Linked DNA regions of Homo sapiens: regions 1 and 3 are each linked to region 2. The links come from fine-mapping of genetic effects on gene expression. A gene starts in region 2. Each other region holds a variant in brackets. All regions are shown on one strand. Distances are between the middles of the regions. Region 1 overlaps AK6 (adenylate kinase 6). Region 2 holds the start of OCLN (occludin). Region 3 overlaps OCLN (occludin).

Region 1 (8,189 bases), 140 kb after region 2:
TCACCCTAACTGGAATACAGTGGTGCAATCCTGGCTCACTCCAGCCTCAAGCAGTCCTCCCACCTCAACCTCCAGAGTAGCTGGGACTATAGGCTGGCACCGCCATGCTGGGCTAATTTTTTTTTTTTTCTTTTGGTAGTGGTGGGGTGTTGCTATGTTATCCAGGGTGATCCCGAACTCCCAGGCTCAAGAGATCCTCCCACCTCGGCCTCTGAAAGTGCTAGGATTATAAGCGCGAACCACCATGCTCACCCTTTTAACTCTGGCCCCACAATTGATTTTTTTTCTGCAAGCAATATATCTGTACCTGGAATTTAAAAAAATAAACTGCAAAACTTTGTTTAGAAAGTTGATTTAATTTTCTAATCTCTCAGTCCTTAAACAAATCAACCTTTTTGATCTTTGCTTAAGATCCTATGTATAGGCAAGTATAAATTTGGCTTCCAATTGAAACTTTCTAAAGTAGCATAAAATTTATTCTTTTTTTGAAATTTGAAATGAAGTTTAGGATCCGTTCATTTCTCTGGTACAGGCTACAATCATCACTTACCTAAAAATCTGCAGTAGACTTGATAGCCTCTGGGACTCCGTCTCAAAAAAAATAAAGACTTCAATCCTAAAAGTTAACACATCTATTTTAGACAGCATATATTGGTTCAAGTCATCTTTCTTTTTTTTTTTTTTTTTTTTTTTTTGAGACAGAGTCTTGCTCTGTCACCCAGGCTGGAGTGCAGTGGCGCGATCTCAGCTCACTGCAGCCTCCTCCCGGGTTCAAGCGATTCTCCTGCCTCAACCTCCCAAGCAGCTGGGATTACAGGCACCCGCCACCACGCCTGGCTAACTTTTGTATTTTTGGTAGAGATGGGGTTTCACCATGTTGGCCAGGCTGGTCTCAACTCCTGACCACAGGTGATCAACCACCTCGGCCTTCCAGTGTGCTGGAATTACAGGCATGAGCCACCGCACCGGCCAGAGTCATCTTTTAAAAGTCAAAGATTTAAAGTATGAAGGAACCTCCGTGTTTATCTATTCAAGATTACCACATAGTACAGAATCAGCTATAGGTATTCTTAGATTTTGTGGTACTGTTAAAAAAATATGCAATACTGTAAAAATAGTATATGGAAAAATACTCCAAAGCTTTTGTTTTTCTTCTAATCTTTGTCCCTAGTAAGGACAACTTTGAATTCTGCTTTTTGTGTTTTACACTTGTATATGTGAGCATTTATCATGTTGCTGCCTAGTCTATACTACATAGTATTTTTAAACTATGTTAACTATAATACTATAACTCTAATACTTATTAATTTTAATTACATAATTTTTACAAAATTAATTACATAATATTTTATAAAGTTATAAAGTTGGTAAATCAAGATTTAACTTTTCTTATTGTTCAACATTTTTTATTATTTTCTAATTTTGTCCAATTAGAAATTAAATGGTAGTGTAAATATCTAAATGGATTGAACATATAACAGGCATAAATATAGACTCATTTTAATTTGCATCTCTTTAATAGCTAGGAAAATTCAGTATTTTTTCATGTGTGTTTACTGATTTTTTCCACTCTTCCATCTTGTGTGAATTCTTTTCTTGTTTATTGAGCAATTGTTATTTTGGTTTTAAGGTCTTTATATTATCTACATTTCAGTCCTTTGTTATTTCTCCCATTCTGTTACTTTTCTTAGAATTTGATTATTTCTCAAGGAACAGAGAGTCAACATTTTAAATAACTGGATCAGTCTTTTTATTTCTTCTGCTACTCAACAAACTCAAATGAATCATTCCTTTATAGCTCCATCTGGGGTTTGTGGTATAAAGTAAGGATTTAGATTGTTTTCTAAATTGTTAACCAGTTTTCTTCATACCAAGACAGTTTAATTTTTTAGGTTGGTAGAGTTCCTGGTAGGTGAGCAATAGCCCAAGGAGGCAGAGGCCACACTAGAGTGCTAGAAAGGTGGTTTATGTGCCTAGAATCAGTCCACAGACCCTCCAGGCAAGACAAGGAGTTACAACTGCTTTTGTGCCCTCCAGTGTCCATCAGACTGCCCCCGCAGTGACCATCAGACTACTCCTGTGTCCCTTCAGAATTTATGTTCATTTTAACCTCATTTCAACCCGTACCAAAATATTAAGGGGAAAGAGGTGGGAAGACTGCTATATAACATGCTCTCAGAGATGGTTAATGGATGATCTGAGCTTGCCTTAGATTAATACCTCCTAAGGGCTGGGGCTAAGGGTAAGATGGTATGTCTTACCTCCTGAAAGAATACTTCTTTTGAAAACCAGCTGTGATTTGTTGGAAAGTTCTTATGTTAAATTTAAATTTGCCTCCTTTGTAACTTTGAACGTTATTTTTGTTTTGCCTTCTGAAATGAGACTATTTAACTCTTATGAGGAACGGCAGTTTGGAATACTGGAAATCTAGAAGTAAAGATACTGTTCAGGAGCATTTGGATCCTGACCCTTCTCTATTCCCATGAGGATGTGAGCTCAGTGACAGAGGGTTCATTTCTGGAATAAAGAATCTGTTATTGCTTTTTTCTTTCTTTCTTTTTGGAGACAGGGTCCTGCTCTGTCGCCCAGCCTGGAGTACGGTGGTGTGATCTCACCTTATTGTAACCTCCACCTCCCAGGCTCAAGCAATCCTTCTGCCTCAGCCTCCCAAGTAACTGGGACTACAGGTGTGCACCACCATGCCTGCCTAATTTTTTTTTTTTTTTCTGTAGAAACAGGTTCTCAACATATTGCCCAGGCTGTCTTGAACTCCTGGGCTCAAGAGATCCTCCTACCTCGTATGGGCTGGGATTACAAGCGCAAAGCCACCATGCCTGGCCTGTTACTGCTTTTGATAAATTAATCTGCTTTTAAATGTATGTGAGTGTGTTTGTATCTGTTCAGGTGTTTCCTCTTCCCGCCAATCTGTAGTTCAACAAAAATAGTGTAGTCCTCTTCTAGTAGCCCCACAAATTCTGAAGTTGGTTATTCACTCTTTTTAGTTGGTTTCAGTTTTGATATTTAAAGCAGTTTCAGATATATTGCAATCCAAGTTTCCCTCTAAACAAAATTCCAATTTATCAGTTAGTATGGCTCCTTTATATTTGGTGTTTATGTAACATTTATTTTGTTAGTATCCACCCTTGTATCTAAAAGAATAATTGATGATACATTTCCTTTCCTGAAGTCTAGAATTAATTGAAAATTACTTAAAGTTACTTAGAAAATATTTCAACAAGCAATTCTAAATCTCTTTTAGAGCAATTGTATGATGGCTATGATGAAGAGTATGACTGTCCCATTTTAGATGAAGACAGAGTAAGTATGACTTTTTCATAAAGTATGCATTTGTTGAATTTCATAGGAAAGTTGACTTCAGTTTTCTTAAGAAGCATTTTTTTTTAAACTTTTCTTACAGGTAGTTGATGAGTTAGATAACCAAATGAGAGAAGGTGGAGTTATTGTTGATTACCATGGTTGTGATTTCTTCCCTGAACGCTGGTTTCATATAGTTTTTGTGCTGAGAACAGATACCAATGTATTGTACGAAAGACTTGAAACAAGGTAAGAAAGGAAAAACATTAGATTCTTAAAGCATAATGTTAACTTTTATTCAGATTTCTGAAATTGGCCATGATAAAAGATTGTTGTTGTTTGTTTTGTTTTGTTTTGTTTTGTTTTTTTGAGATAGAGTCTCGCTGTCACCCAGGCTGGAGGGCAGTGGTGTGATCTCGGTCCACTGCAACCTCCACCTCCCTGGTTCAAGCAATTCTTGTGCCTCAGCCTCCTGACTAACAGACCACGGGCACATGCCACCTTGCCTGGCTAATTTTTTTATTTTTTGTAGAGATGGGGTCTCCCATGTTGCCCAGACTGGTCTCGAACTCTTGGGCTCCAGCAATCTGCCCACCTCAGCCTCCCAAAGTGCTGAGGCTACAGGTGTGAGTCATAGCACCCAGCTAATAAAGGGTTTTATTTGAAAATATGACTACTTTAAAATATGGGCAGTACTTTTTGAGTAAATTAATATCTCAACTGACAATCTGATTGAGTAAAATGTACTGTGTAGAAACCCAATTTAGTCGGCCGGGCACAGTGGCTCA[C/T]GCTTGTAATCCCAGCACTTTGGGAGACCAAGGTGGGAGGATCACAAGGTCAGGACATCGAGACCATGCTGGCTAACATGGTGAAATCCTGTCACTACTAAAAATGCAAAAAAAATTAGCCGGGCATGGTGGCAGGCACCTGTACAGTCCCAGCTACTCTGGAGGCTGAGGCAGGAGAACGACGTGAACCTGGGAGGTGGAGCTTGCAGTGAGCTGAGATCACACCACTGCACTCCAGCCTGGGCAACAGAGTGAGACTCCGTCTCAAACAAAAAAAAGAAACCCTATTTAGCCATGCTTTTTCTTTGATGTAAACCCTTGCTAGGAAAACAGCCAAGCCCCTAACATATTCTTTGCTTATTGACTGAACACTACTCACTCAAATTATCCCTGCATCAGGAGTGGGAAAGCTTATGAAAAACTAACAAAATAAACCAGCATTTCACAGTCTTTAATAGATACCGAGTTAAACCCACAAATAGAGCATCAGATTTAATGCGGAAGAACCAGTAAAGAGAAACTTTTAGGGAAGTCTTTTATCCCCACTGTCTTTTGATCAAAGCTGTGGGAATATGGGGATTCTAGAGAAATTAGAGAGCAATCTCAGAAAGGAAAGCTCCAGAATTTTGCTTAAGGTCGGGGTCAGAATGTGTGGTTTTCACTGATTATAGTCAACTCTGACTAACCACTATTATTTGCAATACTTGTAAATCCTTGCACAGAATAGTATGGCAGCAAATATACATATAGAAAAAGTTAAATTGGGGCTAAACCTAAAACTTTTATCTTTTTTAGGCAGTGAAAAGCCATTAAAAGTTTTGGGGCAGAGAAGTAATAGAGACTATATGGTACATATGCTTTTTTTCAATCAAGACAATTTAAAATTTTGATTAAAAAATTACTGTTTTACATATATAGCCAAGGGTAAGACTAAGGTATGAAAAAACTATGAGAGAGCTAGTTAGTATTTTTAACTATCGAAAAGGTTGTAAAAAAGTAACAGCTTTAGGCTGGGCATGGTTGGGTGGTGAGGGGGAGGCAGGACGGCTCACACCTCACACCTGTAATCCCAGCAATTTGGGAGGCTGAGGCAAGGTGATTGCTTGAGCCTAGGAGTTTGAGACCAGCCTGGGCAACATAGCAAGACCTTGGTCTCTACAAAAAATAAAAAATTTAGCCAAGTGTGGTGGCATGCACCTGTGGTCCCAGCTACTTTGGAGGCTGAGGTGGGAGGAATGCTTGAGCCTGGGAGGTTGAGGCTGCAGTGAGCTGTGATTGCACCACTGCACTCCAGCCTGGTTGACAAAGCAAGACCCTGTCTCAAAAGCAACCAAAAAACAAAAATATCCACTTTATTGAGATTTAGTTTACATTCACCCACTTAAAGTACATAATTCAGGTTTTTTTCTAGTTTTATGGGTACATAGTAGGTGTATATATCAGTTGCTCATTTGTTTTTTTGTATATCAAAAAGTTGTACAATCATTACCACAAACAATTTTAGAAAATTTTGGGGGTGGGCGCGGTGGCTCACGCCTGTAATTCCAGCACTTTGGGAGGCCAAGGTGGCTGAATCATGAGGTCAGGAGTTCGAGACCAGCCTGACCAACATGGTGAAACCCCGTCTCTACTAGGAATACAAAGATTAGCTGGGCGTGGTGGCTTGCACCTGTAATCCCAGCTACTCAGGAGGCTGAGGCAGGAGAATTGCTTGAACCCGGAAGGTGGAGGTTGCAGTGAGCCGAGATCACACCACTGCACTCCAGCCTGGGTGACAGAGCAAGACTCCGTCTCAAAAAAAGAAAATTTTTGTCACCCCAGAAAGGAACCCCATACCCAGTAGTAGTCACTCCCCATTTACCCTCAGTTCCCCAGCCCTAGGCAACCAATAATCTACTCTCTGTCTTTATGGATTTGTCTATACTAGATATTTCATATGAATGAAATCATACAGGATGTGGACTTTTATGCCTGTCTCCTGTCAAATTAGTTTGTTTTCAAGGTTCATTCATATTGTATCATAGACCAGTACTTCATTTCTTTTTATTGCCAAATAATATTCCATTGTATGGATGTATCATTTTTAAAATACATTTATCAGGTTGTGGACATTTGGGTTGTTTCACTTTTTGGCTGTTATGAATATTGTATCCATAAACATTCTTGCACATGTTTTTGTGTGGACATCATGTGTTTATTTCTCTTGTTTATATATCTAGGAATTGAATTGCTGGGTAATATGGAAACTTTGTATTTGACCCTTCCAATAACTGCCAGATTGTTTTCCATAGTGGCTGCATCATCTCATATTCACACTGTGTATGAGGGTTCTAATTTGTCCACATCCTCACCAACAGCTGTTATTGTTCATATTTTGGTTGTAGTCATCCTGCTGGATGTGAAGTAATATCTCATTGTAATTTTGATTTGCATTTCCTATACAGCTAGAGATGCTGAACATCTTTTCATGTCCTTATTAGACAGTTGTGTATCTTCCTTGGAGAAATATTTACTCAGATTCTTTGCTTAAGTTTTAATTGGGTTACAAATCTTTTTATTACTAAGTTATGAGATTTTGCTAATTTACTAATTCATTGGGAATTTATTGAGTAGCTGACAAATTGTGGGGGGGGGAAATTCAAACAAACCTAGATGCTGGTTTGGTGATCTTTAGTTTCACCCTAGTGTCAAGAAACTGTGTCATATAAACAGGTACCAGTCACTCCTCTCTAGGTGAAGAGACCATTTCTGTAATTTTTCACGTATTGAAAAGTGTCCAGTTTCTGGTATGTTTCTGAAACTCCAGTTAATGCCATTTATTTTGCTTCTTGTTTGCTTAACCTCCCTGCCTTCTAGGGGTTATAATGAGAAGAAACTAACAGACAATATTCAGTGTGAGATTTTTCAAGTTCTTTATGAAGAAGCCACAGCATCCTACAAGGAAGAAATCGTGCATCAGCTGCCCAGTAATAAACCAGAAGAGCTAGAAAATAATGTAGATCAGATCTTGAAATGGATTGAGCAGTGGATCAAAGATCATAACTCTTGACTTATAAGGCTAGCTACTTAATAATCACTCTTGTTGATATCTCTGCCGACATCATAGAAATTGTTCAAGTGTCAGTAACACTTTATTAAAATCATGTTGCAGAACCAGCAGGTGGATAGTATATAGGTTTATGCCTGTGTTTCTTTTTCTCCATGAGAAAGCTAAACATGAAATATAATGAATATAGTATTATTAAGGATTGAGACAAAAACTGTGATTTTAATACTTAAATTGCTAAAGAATAAATAAATCTGACAAAATGGGTGGATATCTTTTAAGTTTATTACAGAAAAAAATGCAGATGATCTCTTAAAATAAAACTAAAGATAAAGCAACAGAGTATTCCTTTTTTCTTTCTTTAAATTAGAAAAAAAGTTAAGTGTTGTACTCGATACAAAGTTCAAAAGGTACAAAAGAGCATGTTGAAAAGTTAGGTCTCCCTTCCAGACCACCCTATCCCCAGGCACCCCAGGTTCCTTCCCTTTAGGAAATAATGTTACTGGTTTCCTATATGTCTTTTTAGAGGTTTTATGCCTGCACAGTGTATATGTACATGTGTACATTTTTTAAAGAATATAACAGTATATTATGCACACTATTCTGTACCTTTCTTTTTTCACTTACTATATTTGAAGATTATATCATCTCAGTACAGACCTCCCTGTTCTTTTTTTTAGTTGAGATAGATATACATATCATACAATAAAATTTACCATTTTGAAGTGTATAATCAGAACCGGGTATGGTGGCTTATGCCTGTAATCCCAGCAAATGGGGAGGCTGAGGTGGAGAATCGCTTGAGGCAGGAGTTCAAGACCAGCCTGGGCAACATAGTGAGACCTTAGACTCTAAAAATAAACATAAATAAAATTTATAATCCGTTGGTTTTTAGCTTATTAACAAGGTTATGTAACTGTCACCACTGTGGAGGAAGCAGTGATGATAAAGGGAACTCCTATACCCTTTAGCAGTCACTCTCTATTCTTTCCTCCTCATCCCCTTGCAGTCACTAGTCTACTTTCTGTCTCTATGGATTT
Region 2 (8,162 bases):
CTCCGAAAATAACTAACAACAATTTGAGCTCATGCAATTTATGCAAAGCTTAAGTTATTTGATATTTTTTTGGAGACCAGACTGGAAGACTTCTAAGGTCTCTTTCAAAGTGAATCTGTGACTGTGCTTTAAGGCCAGCAGCCAAAGGTGAAAGAGGACCAATGCCCAGCACAGCAACATTAACAATCTGTACATGTGTTGAGTGAAGGAAAAAATGAGAATGAAGAGGCCACTTATCACCTACAGGAACTTATGTCAGGAGAGTGACAAGGACAGAAGTCAGACAGCTAAATTAGAGTCGGGGGCAAAAGGGAAGCAGCAGATAGATCCTTGTCAAATATGTTAATCTGAAAACCAGCATCTTGGGCTAATGATAAAATATAAAGTGTTCTCCCCTTGACAATGTTTACTGACCAAAAGCTGTCTTAATGGAAAACTAAGCTAAGATGAAAAAAACAGGCTGAGGCTGGGCAAGGTGGCTCACACTTGTAATCCCAGTACTTTGGGAAGCCAAGGCAGAGGGATTGTTTGAGCCCAGAACTTCAAGATCAGGCTGGGCAACAGAGTAAGACTCCGTTATCTATCTTAAAAAAAAAAAAAAAAAAAAAGTATAAAAAAAGAAAAAATAGTCTGAAAATGCTTTGGCCTCAAATTATTCTTTAAAGAAAACTGTCAATAAGTGAAAAATAAACTTTATTGTATTTAAGAGAAGTCTGTTCCTTTTAGAGCACATGCAGTAACTGTCAATTTGCCTTTAAAAAGTTTAAGTTGTGGCCGGGCGCGGTGGCTCACGCCTGTAATCCCAGCACTTTGGGGGGCCGAGACGGGAGGATCACGAGGTCAGGAGATCGAGACCATCCCCGCTAACACAGTGAAACCCCGCCTCTATTAAAAATACAAAAAATTAGCTGGGCATGGTGGCAGGCGCCTGTAGTCCCAACTACTCGGGAGGCCGAGGCAGGAGAATGGTGTGAACCCGGGAGGCGGAGCTTGCAGTAAGCCAAGATCGTGCCACTGCACTCCAGCCTGGGAGACAGCGAGACTCTGTCTCAAAAAAAAAAAAAAAAGTTTAAGTTGTGCCTTATATTAAATGATTTAGACTACAGGCACATCATTAGTAAATTGTCTAAAAATTTGAAGTTAGGCAGATTTTGTAATAGACTCTGTGTCAGAAATTGTATTTTTAATAAATCTTCCAGGTGATTTTTAAACACATCACATATTTTGAGAATTGCTGTCTACAATAAAGGTGTCAATCCAAAAAGGACATTGATCTTGCAATTTCCTGTCTAGAAAGCCCAGATCTTTTACACAACAGACACCTGCTGTTCAGGTCTCAGCTCAGACGTCACCTTCTGGGAGATGCCCTCCCTGTCCCTCACTCCATCACACAAAACTTGTTTTTTTTTTCAGAGCAAACTCCCCTCTGCCCTCATACCTAAAATATAGGTATCATCTCCACCGCATCTGGAATGCCCATATCCCAGACATCAAATGTCTATTTTGACCATCATTTATATCCCTGGTCGCTGGAACTAGCCCTGGCACAAAGTGATTGTCAATGAGTACTCAATTAATAAAACCAACAGTCAATTATTAGAGTTGGGATTTCAATCCAGCAGTGAATGCCTTGAAGTTCTTCACACAACACTCAATAAACGTTATTTTTTCCAACTTCAGTTTGTCAAATGTAATTAAGTGCGTAGAGTCTAAGAGAAAGGGAGAAAAAGAAGACAGAACAGTCTGAGAATCACCTGTGAGCCTGTTAGAAAGGCAGAATCCCAGGCCCCACTCCTGACCTCCCAATCAGAATCTGTGTTTTAATAGGATCCCTAAGTGATTCATACCACAGCCAAGACTGGAATCACTGGGTTACGGAACAGCGGCAAGCCTAGGGGTTAAAACAAAAAGCCTAACATAAATCTGCATGGTCTGTTTACTCTCTTATTTCCATAAATAGTAATTTGATGAAAAAGATCCATTAATATTCCAATCAAATAAGCCTTAAAATGCAACTGAAGAAAACTTCCTTCTGGGAGGTTCCTAGGAAGATGAAAGATATTACATCAGATCATTTATGTGGTTAAAAGTAATATACTATTTTGAAAAGGTAGTAATTCCAACACTACCTTTAGAAGAAAACAAGAATTTTACCTTGATATCAAGCAAAATGCGGGAAATCTTGTATCAGGCTACAGTTACTAGTCAATGGTAGAAAAGTCCAGAAAAATTCCCCAAATCTGGTTCTGGAATATCAAGGACCGCTGCTTCTGATACTCCTTCCCATATTAGCTGAAGCAGTTTGCAAGCAAGCCCACCTGCAACGTTTCCCCCACGGCATTTGCCCACTTTTAAAATGGAGTTCTACTAAGGCCTGCCTTTTAGAGTTGTTGGGATAATTAAATGAGAAAATACAGAATGCTTTTACCACAGTGCCTCACGTGCAGGAGGCACTGCTGCCCACTATTTCCCGAAATGGCCTGGAAACTGCCAAAAGGTGGAGAATCATGTCTTACCGATCTCCCTATCCTCTGCTCCGTCACCTAACAAAGGAGGCCCCTAATAACTAAATAAATTGCAAAACGACCAAAAAAAAAGTGTTGCTTTGTTTGAGGAAATATCTCTGCCTCCCACACACACTTAAGATGTCTATTTTAAAGCACCACTAAGAAAATATTCATAAAGGCTGGGTGTGGTGGCTTACGCCTGTAATCCCAGCACTTTGGGAGGCCAAGGCGGGCGAATCACCTGAGGTCAGGAGTTCGAGACCAGCCTGACCAAATGGCAAAACCCTGTCTCTACTAAAAATACAAAAATTAGCTGTGCATACTAGTGGGTGCCTGTAATCCCAGCTATTCGGGAGGCTGAGCAGGAGAATCGCTTGAACCCGGGAGGCAGAGGTTGCAGTGAGCCCAGATGATGCCACTGCACTGGGGGACAGAGCCAGACTCCGTCTCGGAAAAACACACACACACACACACACAAGCACCTCATATGTACAGTGCAAAAGAACTACTGTTACTATTGTTACACTTGGGAACGCCTAGTTTTCTATCACACCAAGAATCACCAAAAAACACCATAAGTGCCTTCATGGGAAACGTTTCTCTTTTCCAGGTATCCCAATAATACACCTGTTGCCTAAGGGCCACACACTGACTGGCCTGGAAAGCCGCCGCCTCCTCCTCGAGCAGGGTAATTCCCCAAGCGGGCAGTGTGGCCAGCGAGCCCCGGGTCCGGCCTAAGGATGCCGCGGCTTTTCCCTCGGGCCCGGTGGCTTCCCGAGGAGCGCGAGGGGCTCGGCGCCGCTCCCAACCCCTAGGCGCAGAGGCCATCTTGGCCCTCGACCCCTGCTCCCCGCACGCTTCCTCCGACGCAGGCAACATGGCTGGCGCGCGGGGCCGGCCCAGTCCCGGAGGTCCCCAAACTCCGTGGCCCGGCTGGGCGCGGGTCCCGGCTTCCGTGCGCACCGAGGCGCTCCCAGGCAGCGCGCGCCCACGTTCGCCGGGCAGGCACCGCCCGGAGGCAGTTCCGCCCCCCTGGGGGCAGCCCTTTTGGTCACGGATGAGAATCCGAAGCGTGAGCAGCTTCCCTCGAAGTCCAGCCTCACTCGAAATTAACTCCCCGCCCCCCAGCTTAAATCGACGCGGGTTCACACAACTCGCAACAAGTGGATTCGAAGTAGCCAGTGTGGCCCACACCGTGACTCCTGGAATATTTCACAGATTGAATCCAGCCCCCGTCTCCCCGGGATATCCAAAGGGGTGGGGTGGGAGCGGAAGGAATGAAATTCCCCCCGGGATCTAAGCCGCCCGGGCCGCCGAACAGCCGCCTCGCTGCAGCCTCAGGCTTAGGACCCCCAAGGAGCTGGGCGCAGGATCCCTCTCCATGAAGGCCGCCCCCCCAAACTGCAGCCCCAGAGCGGATGCAGGATCGTCGCTGTTCAGGAATGTCGTGCCCCATAAAAGTGAAAAGTTGCCCGCGCCGCTGAGGCACTGCTAGCTTTCAGCGTTTCCGCGGAATAAAGCTTGATCGGCGGCTCCAAGCCACCCCTCGCCCCAGGAGGCAGCCTCCCAAGTTGGCCGGTGCTGCTCTCTCCGCAGACCCGCGCCTCTCTGGTTCCCACGAGTCCCAGCTCGGGGACGAAACTGCCACCGAAACCAGCGCGGAGCGTCCTCCCCCCGGCACCTCCCCTAACATAGTCGCCGCGGTCCCCCCACGGGGACCCTCGGGCTCCCGTGCGCCCCTGACGCCGCGCCCAACACTCACCCGCTCGCCGCAACTGGGCCCGACCCTCCGGGGGCCAACGGTGCCAGGGAGCGCGCTCACCTGGCGGGCGCACCTGACGCCGCACCGACCGCCAGCGCTCAGCCGGGGACTGGGCTGGGGACGTCTCCTCCCCCTTCTCCCTCTCCTTTCCCTCCTCCCTACAACCGGCCCTGCCCCCGGGCATGCGCACCAACGTGGAAGGGGGTGCGGGAAGCCTGCGGGCCAGCGCCGCGAGTCCCACCTGCTGCGTCCTAGACCGGCTCCTCGGCGCTCTGGACCTGGCTCTCGGTTCCTGCCGCCTCCGCCAGAGGAAGCAGGGAGGGAGAGGTGGACGCGGGAGTGTAGGTGTGGTGTGTCGGCCTCCTCCCTCGGTGACCAATTCACCTGAAACTCGGATGGGAGGGGGCGGGAGGACGCGGTCCTGCTTCCCACACCCTGCCAGCGCGCTGTTAAAGGAACCGCGCGACGTTGCGGCCCGAGAGGCGGGGCGCAGAGGAGAGGCGCGGGCTCCTAGGGGGCAGCACGGATGGGGGTCCCTGACCACCCCGGGGTGCGTTCGGTGCTCCGCCTGCTTCGGATGGAACCTTGGGGTGTCTGATGGAGAGAGGCCGAACGAGGTCCAGAGGGGACTGTTTCCTCCGGAAAGAGGGTCCAGGCACTCAGCACTTTGATAGGAAAGGCACGTCCTCACAGGACACTTTTCTGCTTCCAGAATTTGATTAAACTGTTGCTGGAAAAAGGCATCTAGATGTATTGCTCCAACGAAAGACTCCTGGGAAAATTTCAAAAGTCGTGTGTAAACATTGGCGCTGTTTCTGAATCTCTAGATTCAGAATAAGAGACAATTACTTAGAGGGGTTAAAATGAGGGTGAACTACTGTAGGTGTTAGTTGCCATCCAGCAGGCTAAAGTGCATAATACAGTTTACACATCACCACCCCAGGGTCCTCTCCTGCCCACCCGGTCCGCTCTTGAGGACCGGGAAATTTAAACTATTATGGCTCTTTGGCCTGAGAAAAAGCACCTTATACGTTGTTTACCAACCTGTAGTGCTTTAAGAACAACACTACTTAAAAAGCAAAATAAACTTGGTTTACTTTTTTTTTTTTTTTAAGAAAACGAAAAAGCACCTTAGTTCCGGGTGCTGTATTCTATTTCTTGATCTGGATTCTGTTTCCAAGGGAAATTTCATAGTCTGCACTTAACACTGTGTATATTTTTATGTATGTTGGTTGTTTTTCAACATATTTTTTAATTGTACTCCAGGATGTGGCAATTATAGTTCTTGGCATTTAACTATCTGCATTGAAAGCGAACTTTTAGGTTTCTTACATCCTGCTTGTCTTTGTGTTCCAATCTGGAATGTCAGCATTGCTAATAAATTTCTATCCAATCCCACCCACTTCTCTACCTTTAATTAAATGGTTAGAGATGTGACTCTCCCATACATTAGATCTTAAGGCACAATTCATACTTGAGGAAGTAAAAGCACTATATAAATATGAGGTATTTCAGATGATGGCAGCTTTAATGGGTAATTAATTTAATTGGTATTTTTTTCGTGGAAGTCATTGCTACAAATGCTTTAATATGACTATGTAGTTTTTGAATGATGCAGTTTAAATTGGTATTGTTAACACTGGGGAAGTCAGGTTAATCCCCTTAATGTTCCCTGTCAGATTACTGAAATCTCCAAACATTCCATTTGGTTTATAATTAAACAAGGGAACATTTCCTAATACTCTCAGATTTGTAAACACATGTCTATTATTTTATAATGTATTTTGACATGTTCTGAAGAGATCTTAGGAGTTTTTTTCCACTTTATAAAAGAGAGTTCACATACCATAAAATTCACCCTTTTAAAGGGCACGTACAATTCAGTGGGTTTTAGTATACTCACCAGATTGTACAACCATCACCACCATCTAATTCCATTTTAATCGCCCCCAAAAGAAACCCCATGCCCATTAATAGTCACTCCCCATTTCCCCTCTCCCCTCATCCCTCGGCAACCACTAATGTACTTTCTGTCTCTATTAATTTGCCTATTCTGGACATTTTATATGAATGGATAATACAATATGTGCCCTTTGTGTCTGTCTTCTTTCACTTAGCATAATATTTTAAAGGTTCATCCATGATGTAGTATGTATTGGTACTTCATTCCTTTTTATAACTGAATAATATTCCATTGTATCGATGTATCACATTTCGTTTAATCATTCATCTGTTGATGAACATTTGGGTTGTTTCTCCTTTGGGGATGTTATGAATAATGTTACTATGAACATTTGTGTACAAGTTTTTGTGTGGACATATGTTTTCGGTTCTCTTGGTAAATTAGGTTTTTAAATTAAACTTTTTATCATTTTAAGATAACTTATGCATATCATGTTATTTTTCTTATTCCCACCCTAAACCTAAACTCAAAGACATGTTGTGTTGGGTAGAAGGCTTTCATATTCTATTTGCTTTCCCAATTCATTCCTTCAACTATTTTCTGAGTGCCTAATCTGTACACACACGAGTGAACAAAACTCAAAAATCTCTGTGAAACTTACTTTCTAGTTAGTTCTGAGTTCATCCATATGGAATAATAGGATTCATTAATTGTATGAATTCTATTTTATTCGCTTGAGATTAATTTTCTAAACAACAACATCAAAAGAACGGTTAACTATTGTCCAATATTGTGTATATTTCATAGTTGAAAGTGTCTAGAAAGAAAATCCAGCCTTAAAACTTAAACACATCATTCTTCAATACCAAAACAAAATTTGTTGGATGTTAAATGATGCCATGCTCAATTTAATCATGTTACATAATCATAAATTATAGCAAAATTTAATTACTATATTTTTTACCAAATATTCCTTCTTGGCAACTCACAGTAGTATTGAGTAGTATCCACTATTGAATATTATTTGATGAAAATCCCCGTGACTCAGAGCAATGTAAATATTATTTTCAGAACCCCATGATTAGAAACTTGTTGACTTTACCTGCAGTCAAATGGATAAGATGAAAAGACAATTTGTTTCTCCTTTTCTATGTGTAAAAGAGAAACTTAAGAGCTCAGATTATGGTGTCAGAAATCTCAGTTCAAATTCCAGTGTTGCTACTTGGTAGCTGGGTAGGACTAAAGGAAATTAAACTATGTAAGGTTCATTTTTTTCCACCGTAAATTTGAGATGATAATAAACAATACTGTCTTTATAAGTCTGTTGGTGGGAATGTGGAGCATTCACCAAGACAGACTATATGCTGAGCCACGAAACAAGTCTCAATAAATTGAGCAAGCCATTGCTGTATCCTATATGCCTGAAATAGTTCCTGTCACATAGGAATTACATAACTATGTGTTGGATGAATGAATGAATGACTATAGCCCTGCTTCCCAAATCCAACATGCCTGTGGAGTCTTGTCCTCCTCTCAGATGGCCTCCTGCTATTGTGAAACCCGCACGTTCCTTAGTAGCATTTCAAGGCTTACATCTCTAGTACTAGGGTTTAGAGGAGAAAAGACGGGAGATTAACATAGTTCCACTGTTTCCACTCTGCCTTGCCTGCTTAGTAAATGAATTCAAAGACTGGTATGTGTCCAAGGCAACTCAGTTTGGAGTTGCTGAGGGCCTGGCCTGAAAGGCCTCTAGTTTCTCTGCCCAGTCATGAGGAGGGGGAGGCTTCTGGTCCACACAGGACAGTTTCCTTGGACAGGTGTATGGAAGAATTTATGGGGAAGCCACTAGGAAGACAATTTCTAAAAGGATGATTACACTAGATGAGTAAACCTTTATCTTCTCTATTCCTATGTGTTAAGCAAGATCCTCCTGGGAGGAATCCATATTTAAACAAAGAGACTCAGCACCTGAACAGGAACTTCAACAGGT
Region 3 (8,189 bases), 20 kb before region 2:
CATGGTGGTATGCACCTATAGTCCTAGCTACTCGGGAGGCCAAGGCAGGAGAATCTCTTGAACCCGGGAGGCGGAGGTTGCAGTGAGCCAATATTGCACCACTGTACTCCAGCCTGAACGACAGAGCCAGAAGCCGTCTCAAAAAAAAAAAAAATATATATATATATATATATTAATGTCTTTACCCCAGACCTGACTAGCAGCAGCCAGCATCCATCTTTAGCCACCCCACTCCCAGTGGCCAAAATAAACCTTCCTGGGAACCTGTGGCCATACCTTCATGACAATAAATCAATCTGCTCAAAGAACCCTGTGATGTCAGTTTCTGAGGTAGCTTCTAACAGGACCCTAACAGGATTTCTTAGAAAAAGTTTCACTCCAAACATCTTTTCATTTTTATTTTTTTCCGAGACAGGGTCTCACTCTGCCATCCAGGCAAGAGTGCCAGTGGCAGAATAACAGCTCACTGCAGCTTCAACCTCCCATGCTCCAGTGATTCTATCACCTCAGCCTCCTGAGTAGCTGGGACTACAGGCATACATCATCATGCCCAGCTAATTTTTTTTTTATTTTTTGTAGAGACAGGGTCCCATTATGTTGCCTAGGTTGTTCTCAAACTCCTGGACTCAAGTGATCCTTCCACCTTGGCCTCCCTAAGTGCTGGGATTCCAAGTGTGAGCCACCACACCTGGCCTCTAAAAAGCTCTAAAAACAGTTTACTAACACTCATTTGGGAGGCATCTTTAAAGAGGAACTTTCCAGGCTTTCAGCAAATCACATCATATAGGAAGCTTGGTAAGATTAATAGTATATATTTTTAAAAGGAAATTTTTCTAATCTGTCTTTGCCTCACTGAAGTATTTCATAATGTTAACTCAGAATTAGTCACTGTGGTTTGTCATGCTGTTATCTATGTCAAAAGTTTTGCCCTCTCCCTCTCCCCCCTCTCCCTCTCCCCACGGTCTCCCTCTCCCTCTCTTTCCACGGTCTCCCACTGATGCCGAGCCGAAGCTGGACTGTACTGCTGCCATCTCGGCTCACTGCAGCCTCCCTGCCTGATTCTCCTGCCTCAGCCTGCCGAGTGCCTGCGATTGCAGGCGCGCGCCACCACGCCTGACTGGTTTTCTTATTTTTTTGGTGGAGACGGGGTTTCGCTGTGTTGGCCGGGCTGGTCTCCAGCTCCGAACTGCGACTGATCCGCCAGCCTCGGCCTCCCAAGGTGCCGGGATTGCAGACGGAGTCTGGTTCACTCAGTGCTCAATGGTGCCCAGGCTGGAGTGCAGTGGCGTGATCTCGGCTCGCTACAACCTCCACCTCCCAGCCGCCTGCCTTGGCCTCCCAAAGTGCCAAGATTGCAGCCTCTGCCCGGCCGCCACCCCGTCTGGGAAGTGAGGAGCGTCTCTGCCTGGCCGCCCATCGTCTGGGACGTGAGGAGCCCCTCTGCCTGGCTACCCAGTCTGGAAAGTGAGGAGCGTCTCTGCCCGGCCGCCATCCCATCTAGGAAGTGAGGAGCGCCTCTTCCCGGCCCCCATGCCATCTAGGAAGTGAGGAGCGTCTCTGCCCGGCCGCCCATCGTCTAAGATGTGGGGAGCGCCTCTGCCCCGCCACCCCGTCTGGGATGTGAGGAGCGCCTCTACCCAGCCGCGACCCCGTCTGGGAGGTGAGGAGCGTCTCTGCCCAGCCGCCCCGTCTGAGAAGTGAGGAGACCCTCCGCCTGGCAACCGCCCCATATGAGAAGTGAGGAGCCCCTCCGCCCGGCAGCCACTCTGTCTGGGAAGTGAGGAGCGTCTCTGCCCGGCAGCTACCCCATCCGGGAGGGAGGTGGGGGGGTCAGCCCCCCGCCCGGCCAGCCGCCCCGTCCGGGAGGGAGGTGGGGGGGTCAGCCCCCCGCCCGGCCAGCCGCCCCGTCCGGGAGGGAGGTGGGGGGGGGTCAGCCCCCCGCCCGGCCAGCCGCCCCGTCCGGGAGGTGAGGGGCGCCTCTGCCCGGCCGCCCCTACTGGGAAGTGAGGAGCCCCTCTGCCCGGCCAGCCGCCCCGTCTGGGAGGGAGGTAGGGGGGTCAGCCCCCTGCCCGGCCAGCCGCCCTGTCTGGGAGGTGAGGGGCCCCTCTGCCCGGCCGCCCCTACTGGGAAGTGAGGAGCCCCTCTGCCCGGCCAGCCGCCCCATCCGGGAAGGAGGTGGGGGGGTCAGCCCCCCGCCCGGCCAGCCGCCCCATCCGGGAGGTTAGGGGCGCCTCTGCCCGGCCGCCCCTACTGGGAAGTGAGGAGCCCCTCTGCCCGGCCAGCCGCCCCGTCCGGGAGGGAGGTGGGGGGGTCAGCCCCCCGCCCGGCCAGCCGCCCGGTCCAGGAGGTGAGGGGCGCCTCTGCCCGGCCGCCCCTACTGGGAAGTGAGGAGCCCCTCTGCCCAGCCACCACCCCGTCTGGGAGGTGTACCCAACAGCTCATTGAGAAAGGGCCATGATGACAATGGCGGTTTTGTGGAATAGAAAGGGGGGAAAGGCGGGGAAAGGATTGAGAAATCGGATGGTTGCCATGTCTGTGTAGAAAGTGGTAGACACGGGAGACTTTTCATTTTGTTCTGTACTAAGAAAAATTCTTCTGCCTTGTGATCCTGTTGATCGGTGACCCTACCCCCAACCCTGTGCTCTCTGAAACATGTGCTGTGTCCACTCAGGGTTAAATGGATTAAGAGTGGTGCAAGATGTGCTTTGTTAAACAGATGCTTGAAGGCAGTATGCTCGTTAAGAGTCATCACCACTCCCTAATCTCAAGTACCCAGGGACACAAACACTGCAGAAGGCCGCAGGGTCCTCTGCATAGGAAAACCAGAGACCTTTGTTCACTTGTTTATCTGCTGACCCTCCCTCCACTATTGTCCTATGACCCTGCCAAATCCCCCTCTGTGAGAAACACCCAAGAATGATCAATAAAAAAAAAAAAAAGTTTAAAAGGCCTGCCACCTGCTATTCCAAAAACACTCTTGCCAATCTTGACCCACGAGAGCACCTTTGGCAATGGTTTCTGTTTATCTCCAAAATGATAAGCAGAAAAATAAAAGGGAGTAGAGGGAAGAAGTAGTTTTTGTTTTGCAAAGGCCAAGTTCTTTCTGCATGATTTTTTTAGAAGCCATTTCTTTTCAAAACCAAGATTCACTCCTTGAAAATGGAAATCTGATTTTCACCTTTTAGTAAAACCATTTCCACTTAGCCCATCCTCTTAAAATTCTGAGTAAAAACCAATGCAACAACCTTTGCAACATATACAAACATTAATTCTAAGAATAAAGTTTAACAAAGCACTAAAAATTCAGACACAAATTTGGGGCTTTAATAAAAGATGTAAAGTTATTTTTTAACACTTACCCACTCCTCGACATTGGGGGGCTGCTCATCATAAATGTGTTCCTTGTCCCACAAAATATTGGACTTGTCATACCTGTCCATCTTTCTTCGAGTTTTCACAGCAAAGAAAATTATTAAAGCAAAAGCCACAATAATCATGAACCCCAGTACAATGGCAATGGCCTAAAAAGGAGTGGAAAATATTGGCATAATTAGATTTTAATTGCTTAATCACAATTCACCCTCTACATATTATTAAAACCCTTATCTACCCTAAGGCCCTACTAAATCCATGTGGTTTAATTGATAGAAAACTGAAGCAAATAGTTACATTTCAGACATATCATAAAACCTAACCCACACTAACTGGGCTAAGGCCAGCAAATGTACACACACGTACATACTGCTTGACTCAATCCTCAGAAAATGCCTAATGTTAGGAACTATCAATCATCACCCTCATTTCAGAGCTGTAAAAAACTAGTTCCAAAGCTTGTACACCTACGGGCCAAGCTTTGTGCACCTACGAGAATGGCCAGTAAAGTAACTCAATCATTGGTATACTTCTAAAGGGCCTGAAAAATGCTACTCTCAAAAGTATTCACAGCTTTGAAATAGCCAATCATGCTTGTAATCTTGTTCAAAACATATGCTTGGCAAGCCTTTTTACACTGAATGTAAATTTCTGTCCATAGATCTCTATCTTACCAAAAATGATGAAGACATGGATCTAATCAAGCTATAAATAGCAAATTGACTAATGATTGATTTGGTCTGGCAGGTTTCTCTGTTTCAGGAGTCTTGCATACTACTAGAAAGGGCCCTGTAACAAAGAAACTTCCTACTC[T/CT]TAACAGTTCTCCCAGTGGTGATAGGATATTAAATGGTATATTGGCCTGGGAGGCACTTGAAGTTGAGGGAAATATCAGGCCTCTACCCTGGATGTCTGCTAATGGGAACAAGAGGCTCTCCTTCCAGCTGTCTTGACAGTGACATCATTTTTCAAAGAGTAAGTAGTAAGAGAACTAAGAGGGATAGGGGTGTGGTAGGATAGGAGTACCAACCCTCAGTCCCTATCTACCATGGACATGTCTAAATGGCAACAACGAGCACTGTGAAAACCTACGTCTGCAGGGAAAACCTTCAGTCTTCTAAATAATGGTAGACAGATACTAGAGGTCTAACTCCAAAGGAGTGACTCATTCAGGAATGGGAACTCCTGAGTTAGTGTAAGAAAAAAGGAAAAACAAGGGAAAAAAGATCAGTAACTCAGAAACATTTCAGATATTAATATAATCAGTATGACTCATGGTTACTAAAGTAGGTTTCTCAACTCCAACCTGCACATTTGAATCACTTGCTTAGCTTTTAAACATACTAACTTACACTCTGAAAACTATAAAACACTATTAAAAGAAGTTTAACAAGACCTACATAAATCAAAAGAATCTTACGTTCATGAATCAGAAGACTTGTAATTGTAAAGATGACAATACATCCAAAATTGACCTACAGATTCAATATAACCCTTCAAAATCCTAGCTGGCATTTTTTTCCAAAATTGACATGCTGATCTTAAAATCCATATGGAAATGCAAGGAATCCAGAATCTAGCCAAAACAGTCTTGAAGAACAAAGTTGGAGAACTCCCACTCCACAATTTCAAAACTTACTATAAAGTTACAGTAATCAAGACAGTATGGTACTGGCATTAGGACATATGATTAATGCAGCTGAACTGAGAGCCCAGAAATAAATGTCCACATTTATGATCAATTCATTTTTGACAAAGGCATGAAGAAAACTTAGTGGAGGAACAGTCCTTTCAACAAGTAACACTGAGACAACTGCATATAAACATGCGAAAGCTTTCAGAACCCTTGCTTCCATCATGCCCAAAATTAACACAACATGAATCACAGACCTAACTGTAAAAGCTAAAATTATGAAACTATAGAAAAATTAAATAATAGAAAACATAGGAGTAAATCCTTGTGACCCTGAATTAGGCAAAGCATTAGATATGACACCAAAAATACAAGCAACAGAAGAAAAATTAAATAAACTGGACATCATCAAAACTAAAAATTTTTTTTTTTTTTTTTTTTTTGAGACAGAGTTTTGCTCTTGTTGTCTAGGCTGGAGTGCAGTGGCACAATTTCAGCTCACTGCAACCTCCACCTCCTGGGTTCAAGTGATTCTCCTGCCTCAGCCTACTGAGTAGCTGGGATTACAGGCACGCCACCGTGTCCAGGTAATTTTTCTATTTTTAGTAGAGATGGAGTTTCACCATGTTGGCCAGGCTGGTCTCGAACTCCTGACCTCAGGTGATCCGCCCACCTTGGCCTTCCAAAGTGCTGGGATTACAGGCGTGAGCTACCATGCCCGGCCCAAAACTAAAAGCTTTTATGCAAAGGACACCATCAAGAAAGTGAAAAGATGCCTATAATCCCAGCGGTTTGGAAGGCCAAGGCAGGATCACTTGAGCCCAGGAGTTCCAGCCCAGACCGGGCAACAAAGTGAGACCCTGTCTCTACAAAAAATTTTTTAAAAAATTATCCGGGTGTGGTGGCATGCCCCTGTGGTCCTAGCTACTCAGGAGACTGAGGTAGGAGGGTCACTTGAGCCCAGGAGGTCAAGGATGCAGTGAGCTGTGACTGCACCACTGCACCCCAGCCTGGGTGACAGTGAGACTCTGTCTCAAAAACAAAACAACAACAAAAATAGCCCAATTAAAACATGGGCAAGTCTAGGCCGGGCACAGTGGCTCACACCTGTAATCCCAGCACTTTGGAGGCCGAGGCGGGCGGATCACGAGGTCAGAAGATAGAGACCATCGTGGCTAACACGGTGAAACCCCATCTCTACTAAAAATACAAAAAAAAAAAAAAATTAGCTGGGCGTGGTGGCCGGTGCCTGTAGTCCCAGCTATTCAGGAGGCTGAGGCAGGAGAATGGTGTGAACCCAGGAGGCGTAGCTCACAGTGAGCAAAGATCACACCACTGCACTCCAGCCTGGGCGATAGAGCAAGACTCCGTCTCAAAAAGAAAAAAAAAATGGACAAGTCTAAACAGCCATTTCTCCAAAGATAAGAGAGAAATGGCCAATAAGTACATGACTATATAGCTAATAACATTAGCTATAAAGAAAATACGAATCAAAATCACAATAAAGCACCACTTCACTTCTCACCCATCAGCATGGCTAGAATCAGACAATAACAAGTGTTGGTGAGGATGTGGAGAAATTGGAACTTTCATACATTTCTGATGTGAATGTAAAATGATGCAAACTCTTTGGAAAAACTCTGGTAGCTCCCCAAAAGATTAAAGAGTCACCATATGACCCAGCAATTCCACCCCTAGGTATAACCCAACTCAAGAAATCATTAAAACATAGGTTCACACAAAAACGTATACAAGAATGTCTATAGCATGATTCTTTTTTTTTGAGATGGAGTCTTGCTCTGTCGCTCAGGCTGGAGTGCAGTGGCGCAATCTCAGCTCACTGCAAGCTCCGCCTCCCGGGTTCACGCCATTTCTTCTGCCTGAGCCTCCCGAGTAGCTGGGACTACAGGTGCCTGCCACCATGCCCAGCTAATTTTTTTTGTATTTTTAGTAGAGACGGGGTTTCACCTTATTAGCGAGGATGGTCACAATCTCCTGACCTCATGATCCGCCCGCCTCAGCCTCCCAAAGTGCTGGGATTACAAGCATGAGCCACCGTGCCCAGTCTAGCATGATTCTTAATAGCCAATGTAGACACAAATGTCTATCAACTGATAAATAAAATGTGGTTTATCCACACACTGGAATATTAGCAATAAAAAGGAATGAGAGAATGGCACAAGCTATGACATGGGTAAACCTTAAAAACATTATGCTACGTAAAAGAAGCCCATCACAAAGACCACATTGTGTGATTCCATTTATATGAAATACCTAGAGAATAGACAAATTTATAGATGTAGGATTAGTGGTTGCCTAGGGCTAAGAATGGTTAGGGAAATGAGGAGTGACCGCTAACGGGTACAAGTTTCTTTTTAGGATAGTGAAAATGTTCTAAAATTGATTGTGGTGATGGTGGCACAATTCTGTGAATATATTAAAAACCACTGAACTGTTATTTAAGTAATCAAATTACATGGTATGTTAATCATATCTTAATGAGACTCAGCCCCTCCCCCAGATTTAATTAGAAGTGGAGCCTTGTCATCAATATTTTTTAAGAGTTTCCAGAGTGATTCTATCACATATCTCAAGTTGAAGGCCTCTGCTAAGGAGATGGAGAAAAAACCCAAAACACCACTCATACCTCCTGGGGATCCACAACACAGTAGTGATACAAATACTGATCCACGTAGAGTCCAGTAGCTGCAGGTGTATAAAATTGGTTGCAGAGGGCATATATTTGTGAACCATATAGAGATCCAGAAGACTGAGCAGTTGGGTTCACTCCCATTATATAGACAATTGTGGCAATAAACACCATGATGCCCAGGATAGCACTCACTATTATCACACTTAAGTAGTATCTTCTTGTTCTGGACATTTCAGATCTTATAACACTGGTAACAAAGATCACCAACGCGGCAATGAAACAAAAGGCAGCCATGGCCAACATGAAGCCCTTTGCTGCTCTTGGGTCTGTATAGCCTCCGTAGCCATAGCCATAACCATAGCCATAGCCATAGCCACTTCCGTAGCTACCAAAGCCACTTCCTCCATAAGGGTAGCCTACACTACCTCCTAAAAGGGAAGTTCCATAGCCTCTGTCCCAGGCAAGCGTGGAGGCCACACAGGCAAAGATGGCAATGCACATCACAATAATGAGCATAGACAGGATCCGAATCAC

Evidence for each region. PIP is the estimated chance that this variant, and not a neighbour inherited with it, causes the effect.
Region 1: its variant is the best candidate, but not a certain one, in a credible set for the expression of OCLN in whole blood (TOPMed, PIP 0.58).
Region 3: its variant is the best candidate, but not a certain one, in a credible set for the expression of OCLN in whole blood (TOPMed, PIP 0.55).

What each region holds. Positions count from the first base shown.
Region 1 is chr5:69,351,024-69,359,212 of GRCh38, reverse strand. It overlaps AK6 (adenylate kinase 6), which reads left to right. Exons shown (of 5, transcript NM_016283.5): 3 at 3,260-3,318; 4 at 3,419-3,564; 5 at 6,960-8,189. The coding sequence ends at 7,152. Among named protein-coding and RNA genes, the nearest start is that of AK6, 14 kb to the left of the region's middle. The variant C/T (reference allele first, on the strand shown) is at 4,104.
Region 2 is chr5:69,489,008-69,497,169 of GRCh38, reverse strand. It overlaps OCLN (occludin), which reads right to left and starts at 4,380. Exons shown (of 9, transcript NM_001205254.2): 1 at 4,270-4,380.
Region 3 is chr5:69,509,280-69,517,468 of GRCh38, reverse strand. It overlaps OCLN (occludin), which reads right to left. Exons shown (of 9, transcript NM_001205254.2): 3 at 7,650-8,189; 4 at 3,360-3,521. Among named protein-coding and RNA genes, the nearest start is that of OCLN, 21 kb to the right of the region's middle. RefSeq lists an enhancer at 1-358. The variant T/CT (reference allele first, on the strand shown) is at 4,186.